Linked DNA regions of Homo sapiens: region 1 is linked to region 2. A link means that fine-mapping ties the variant in region 2 to the expression of a gene that starts in the linked region. Tissue or cell type: whole blood. Region 2 holds a variant in brackets; the other region holds the start of a gene. All regions are shown on one strand. Distances are from middle to middle.

What was found. PIP is the estimated chance that this variant, and not a neighbour inherited with it, causes the effect.
Region 1: DHRS3 starts here. The variant in region 2 is fine-mapped to the expression of DHRS3 in whole blood (TOPMed, PIP 0.94).

Annotation. Positions count from the first base shown.
Region 1 is chr1:12,616,893-12,619,643 of GRCh38, reverse strand. DHRS3 (dehydrogenase/reductase 3) reads left to right here and starts at 1,434. Exons shown (of 6, transcript NM_004753.7): 1 at 1,434-2,490. The coding sequence starts at 2,296. RefSeq lists enhancers at 1-545, 546-1,177, 1,178-1,809.
Region 2 is chr1:12,592,836-12,595,586 of GRCh38, reverse strand. All of the region lies in intron 1 of DHRS3 (dehydrogenase/reductase 3), which reads left to right. Among named protein-coding and RNA genes, the nearest start is that of MIR6730, 15 kb to the right of the region's middle. RefSeq lists an enhancer at 2,306-2,751. The variant G/C (reference allele first, on the strand shown) is at 1,372.

The DNA.
Region 1 (2,751 bases), 24 kb before region 2:
GACGATGGGATAACAGTCCCCCGATTGCAAGGTCAGGGGAAGGACTGTGTCAGAATATAGGCCCTCAGTGCAGGACAGTTGCTCATCCTAAGCCTCTCCTGCCTTTTGCTCTTCCAGTGGCTTTTCACCCAGAAGGAAGATCCTCCCCTGCAGAACCTCTCCCCAGAACTAGGTCTTTGCAGGTGACGAGGTAATCCCAGCCTCCCCTCCCCGCAGATCAGCGTTTTTCGAAGTGACTTTCTCACCAGGCGGAGCATTGAAAGTACCGATCCCAGCGCACCCAGCCCTGCTGAATCAGAATCTCTGGGGGTGAGGCCCAGGAATCGCCGTCTGAACAAGTCGCGGGCTGGAAACGGCTGCCCCAGATTACAGGGCAGCTCCCTGCTTCGCTCTCGCTCCTCCGGCCCCGGGAACGTGCAGGGGGGCGGGAGGCAAGTCCCATCAGCACTTTGAACTGGGGCTGCTTTTTAGTGACTCACCTCCCAGACTTCCTGCAACAGACAACTCTAAATAGCTCGGTCCCACCCTCCAGCAGGGGAGACATTCCGGTCGGGAAGGGCAGGAGGTTAGAAGGTGGGTGCCCCGCCAGGGCAGTCCAGGGAGACCCAAGGACAGGAGACGCTGGCTGCACAGCACAGGGGCGCACGAATAGGACGTTTTGTTTACAGGCTTTTGTTATTAAGGAAATTGGTGTCAGTCAAGGTAATTCTAGCTCAGATGAGCAATAAATATGCTCCCAGCTAATCTTGTGGGGATTTTATTGGCACTCGGAGCAGAGGTTCCTTTACCTTGACTACTCCCTCCCCTCAAAGCAAAGTCCTGCTCCCCAGCGGCTTCCCCCTAAGCATCGTGAGGCACTTGGGTCAGGCTTTTAAAAGTCCACTCTACGTGAACACAGAAGAGGTCCGGGCAAAGGTGAGGAGTGGCTTCCTGATCCTACCTGGAGGCCGAGGATGACCAAATGACCTGAAATAAAACCCTGGGTGACCTGGTTGGATCAAGGCATACGCAAGCTCCCCCGGGCCTGCTCCACACTCGGGGTGATCACCTGGCCCGCGGGCGGCCCGGGCAAGGAGGAACGTCTCGAGAAGGCAGCCGGCTCGCCGGAGTCGGTTCCAGCGTGTTCGAGTTACAGCTGCGAGCCCTCAGGGACACCGGCGGCAAGTCCCGGCTTGCAGAGAGGGGAGCCAGTCCCGGGAGAGCGCGAGTCCCGGCGAGCCCGAGTGCGCGCCTTATGCGCGCTCCCCGCGACGGCGCAGGGGGAGGGGAGGCCGCAGCAGCCACTCAGAGGAACGGTAGTGAAGCCTCCCAACAACTTTAACTGTCAATCAGACTTAATGGGGTATTGAAAAAATGGGGGAAAAAGGGGCCGCCCTCTCCGCGACGCGGCTGCCCGGGGAGCGAATGAATAGGGCCGCGCAGACCAAGGCGTCCGATCCACGCGCGCTCCACACCCGGACCCTCTCCAAGTTGGAAAGGACAAAAAGAAGGCAATAAATGCTAAAAAGGGAGAGAAGGGGAGCTGGATCGAGCGGCAACTCCCAGCCTCTGCTGGAACAGAGAGGGAGGGAGGGAGCCGGAGCGAGCGAGCGCGCGCGAGGGCGAGCGCTGCACGTAAAGAAACTGACACCCGGACCCCCCACTTCTCCTGCACGTTGCTGGCAATCAGATCGCGTTTAAGCAATTTCCTGAGCCCAAGAATAGCAATGAGTCGGGAGACTTTCGCGGGCTGAAATTGGGAGCTCCAAGCACTTTTTCCCCCCACTTTTTTTTTTTTTTTTTTTCTGGAGACGGGGTGGGGGTGGGGGCGCTACAATTTGGAATCAGCTTTTTTTTTTTTTTTTTTTTTTTTTTTAATCTTGCACTTTGAAACCGCGGGACCGAGGCAGGGTGCGCGCGTGTGGTTGGTGCCTTTTTTTTTTTTTCTTCCCCTCCCTAAACTCCTCTGTCAGTCTGTAAACATTACCTGAGAATTCCCCAGCCGAAACGGCTGCTGGGGCAAGAAACTTCTTGTTAGAACTTTCCACCTCCGGCTTCCCCCTCCACCTCTTTTACCGTCCCAACCTTAGGAGACGCTTTTTCTCCCCCAGAGGAGAATTTATCTTTTTTTTTTTTTTTTTTTTCTTTTTCTCACCCGGTGCTTTGCATTTGGGAAGAGGTGATTTCAAGAGTGGCCAGGTGGGACGCCTCTCTCCTCCTTATTCGGTTTACTATTTATTGTTCGGGGTGTTTTTTAATTCCTGTATTGCTCGGCCCGGGGAGTTTCGCCCCCTGCCCGGCTCCGCGGCGCGGAGGATGGTGTGGAAACGGCTGGGCGCGCTGGTGATGTTCCCTCTACAGATGATCTATCTGGTGGTGAAAGCAGCCGTCGGACTGGTGCTGCCCGCCAAGCTGCGGGACCTGTCGCGGGAGAACGTCCTCATCACCGGCGGCGGGAGAGGCATCGGGCGTCAGCTCGCCCGCGAGTTCGCGGAGCGCGGCGCCAGAAAGGTACCAGGCACTGCGACTCCAGGGAGTGGGGGGCCGCAGGGGCGGGGGTAAGCCCACCTGCTGCCGCTGCGGGATCCCGCGCCCGGGAGCTGAGAGTCGCCGGCCACCCCACTTCTCCGCGCCACCCACGAGTGCTGAGCTAGTCGGTTTCACCTTGTAAATTTCCCGGGCACCGGACTGTCTTTTTTGGCAGGTTCAGAGTTGATCCGCTCCTTTGGGATCGGTGGCTGGCTGACTGGCTATTCACCCCCACCCTGAAAC
Region 2 (2,751 bases):
CACCCAGTCGCCCTCCAGTCTGCACCCAGGACCCCAGCCTCGCCCCGCCCCCTCCCCATCTATCTCCCGCCCCTTCCCATCCCCTTTCCACCCCTTTCCCATCCGCCGCTTGGGATCCCAGCCCGATCCCCACCCGGCACTGCAGCCCCGCCCAGCCCCTCCCGGGACCCCCGCGGCCCCGCCCCGCGCCCGCCCCTGGGCCCACTTTCAGAAAGACTTCCTGGAGCCTCCTGCCCGACCCGCTGAGGCTTGGCGGCTCCTCCTGCCACCCCCTCACGCCATCATGTGAGCCAGGCTGGCCTCCCGGCCGCGCACCGAGCCGGCTGCAGCTCGTTAGCTGTCAGGGCCAGGGTTGGGACGGCCCGGGCACTTTGTTATTGGAAACTGGGCTCACCCCCGCTGCGCTAGGTGGGTCCCAGGCGCTGGGGCAGCCTCTTCCCCCGGAGCTGCCTTTGCCACCTGGAACTGCTTTCTCGCTCACCGCCTCCCCTCCCCTCCCTCTGCGTAAACCAATTGTTCTGGAAGCTGAAGGGACCTGGGATTCTCTTCCTGCACACCTGGGGCTTGCCAGAGCCAACCCTCCTGGAGAGGGAGGCGCTGGGGCTCAGGGAACGGCAACCTCATTCTTCCATTTTCTCAGGCCAAACGCTCTGGTGTCCTCTGGGAAGCTCACTTTCTCCAGCACCCAGCTCTGCAACCGTCCAGAATCCCTCTTCTCCCATCACCTAAGCATCCCAGCCCAGCCCCTTCCAGCTTCATGTCAGAGGCTGTCTTTTTTCTCCTTACAACCTCCCAATCTACCCCATCTCAGAAAAGAATTCAAAGTCCTGCTGTGGCTGGTGTCTCCCGCTTGCTCTTCCACACTGGTCTCCGTGCTGGGGAAGCTCATTCCCACCCCAGGGCCTTTGCACCAACTGTTCCCTCCACCAGGGATGCTCTTCCTCCACGCGTCTGTATCGCTCCCTCCTTCACTTCCCTCAGGTCTCTTCCAAAATGTTACTTTAACCAAGAGGACTTCCCTGCACCTTTCCCCCACCATCTGAATACCACTCCCACCCCATAATCACTCCCTCCAACCCCCTACAAAGCTATGTGTTCCTCCCATGCACATCTAGCACTTTCTAGTGGCTAGAAAACTACTTACTATACAGTCATTCGTTCACGTGAACAAGTGTTCATGCTCATTGTCCCCGGACTTACACACAAGCAAACTCCGCAAGTGAGATAAATGTATTCCCCGCTGGATCCCAGGGCCTCCAAAGTGCCTGGTGCACACAATTCCACAAATAGTCCTTGAATGAATGAATGAGGCAGGACAGGGTTGTTAAAAGAGCTTCCCTTTGGAGTCCGAGCCTTGCTTTGAAACTTCTA[G/C]TAGTGCAGCCTGCATGAGTTACTTAGACTGTCCAAATTTGAATCCCACCCCGGTGGACAGTAATCTGGAGATGTGTGCTGTGAGGGAAGGGTGGTCTGTAGATGCTGGCTCCTCCCTCCTCTCCTTGGCACCCCCACCCCAAGGTCACCCAGCACTTTCCAGCAAGAGGTCCAGTGGGGGAAAAGGGCAAAGGTTGTGAGGTGTCAGCCATGAACTCTAGCCTGAGTTTCTCTGCCTCCGTGTTTTGCCAAGTGCGGCCCTGGGCAGTCAGATGGAGGTGGAGCCCCTGGCCAGTCTTGTAGGCTGGGGATGTTTGTGAAAAGAAACATCAGCCCGTGGGTTTCTGGCTGGGAGTGAGCAGTGTTCTGCCTGCCCAGAGTCAGCTTTTGTGATCGTTTCCCTGGAGAGTTTTCTGAGTGGTCCCAGAACCAAAAAGTTTCGCAAGAATCACACCCAGGGATGAGGTGGAGACTGCCCAGTTGTCACGTACTGGCTCTTGGCAGGGCGTGGTTTTAGCATTTGAAGGAGTGTCCTCAGGAACACTAGGTGCTCATCACAGGGGGAGACATGCCTGTCTCAGCAACTGGGAAGGAGGAAATCAAAGAAGGGTAGATTTGTAAATCAAATCAGAGCTGGTGTTTGTGGGGTTGGGGCATTTTACATGAAGACCTCTTGGGTAAAGAGACACTTGAGCAGAACCTGTGAGAAGGTGGCCAGGTGTGGTACCTCACTCCTGTAATCCCAGCACTTTGGGAGACTGAGGCAGGAGGATCACTTGAAGCCAGGAGTTCAAGACCAGCCTGGGCAACAATGTGATACCCCCGTCTCTACAAATAATAATAATCATAATAATTTTTTAAAAAGAAAAGAGGGTGCCCTACAAGGAGAGGGATACTTGGGAAAAGAGAACAGAGAGCAGCCAGTACAAAGGCCCTAAGGTAGAGGGGGCCAGTGCTTCTGCAGGGCCGAGACCTAGGAGGGAGTAGCTGAGACGAGGGATGGGGCAGACCAGGAAGGGCCTGCGATCCCAGTAAACACTAGATTCCAGTCTGTGAGATGGGCAGCCATCAGTAGTCATAAGCAGGGTGATGTGGTCTGACACATTCTAGAAGGATCTCTGGCTGTTGTGTTGAGAACAGACTGAGGCAGGGGCCCTGGGGCAAAGGTAGCAGCCAAGTGACCTTTTGGGACCAGGTGAGGGGTCCACTTGTGCTCCAGGTGAAGGGCGCTGAGGCAGGGCCCCAAGGCGCCGTGGAGGTGGCGAGAAGTGGTGAGAAGCCTCTGGATTTCAGAGGTCAGGCTGACAGGGTGCGTGGTGGAGTGGGCATACAGTGAGAGAAAACACTTAATGTGGGACAGTGAAGAGCCTTCGGAGGTTA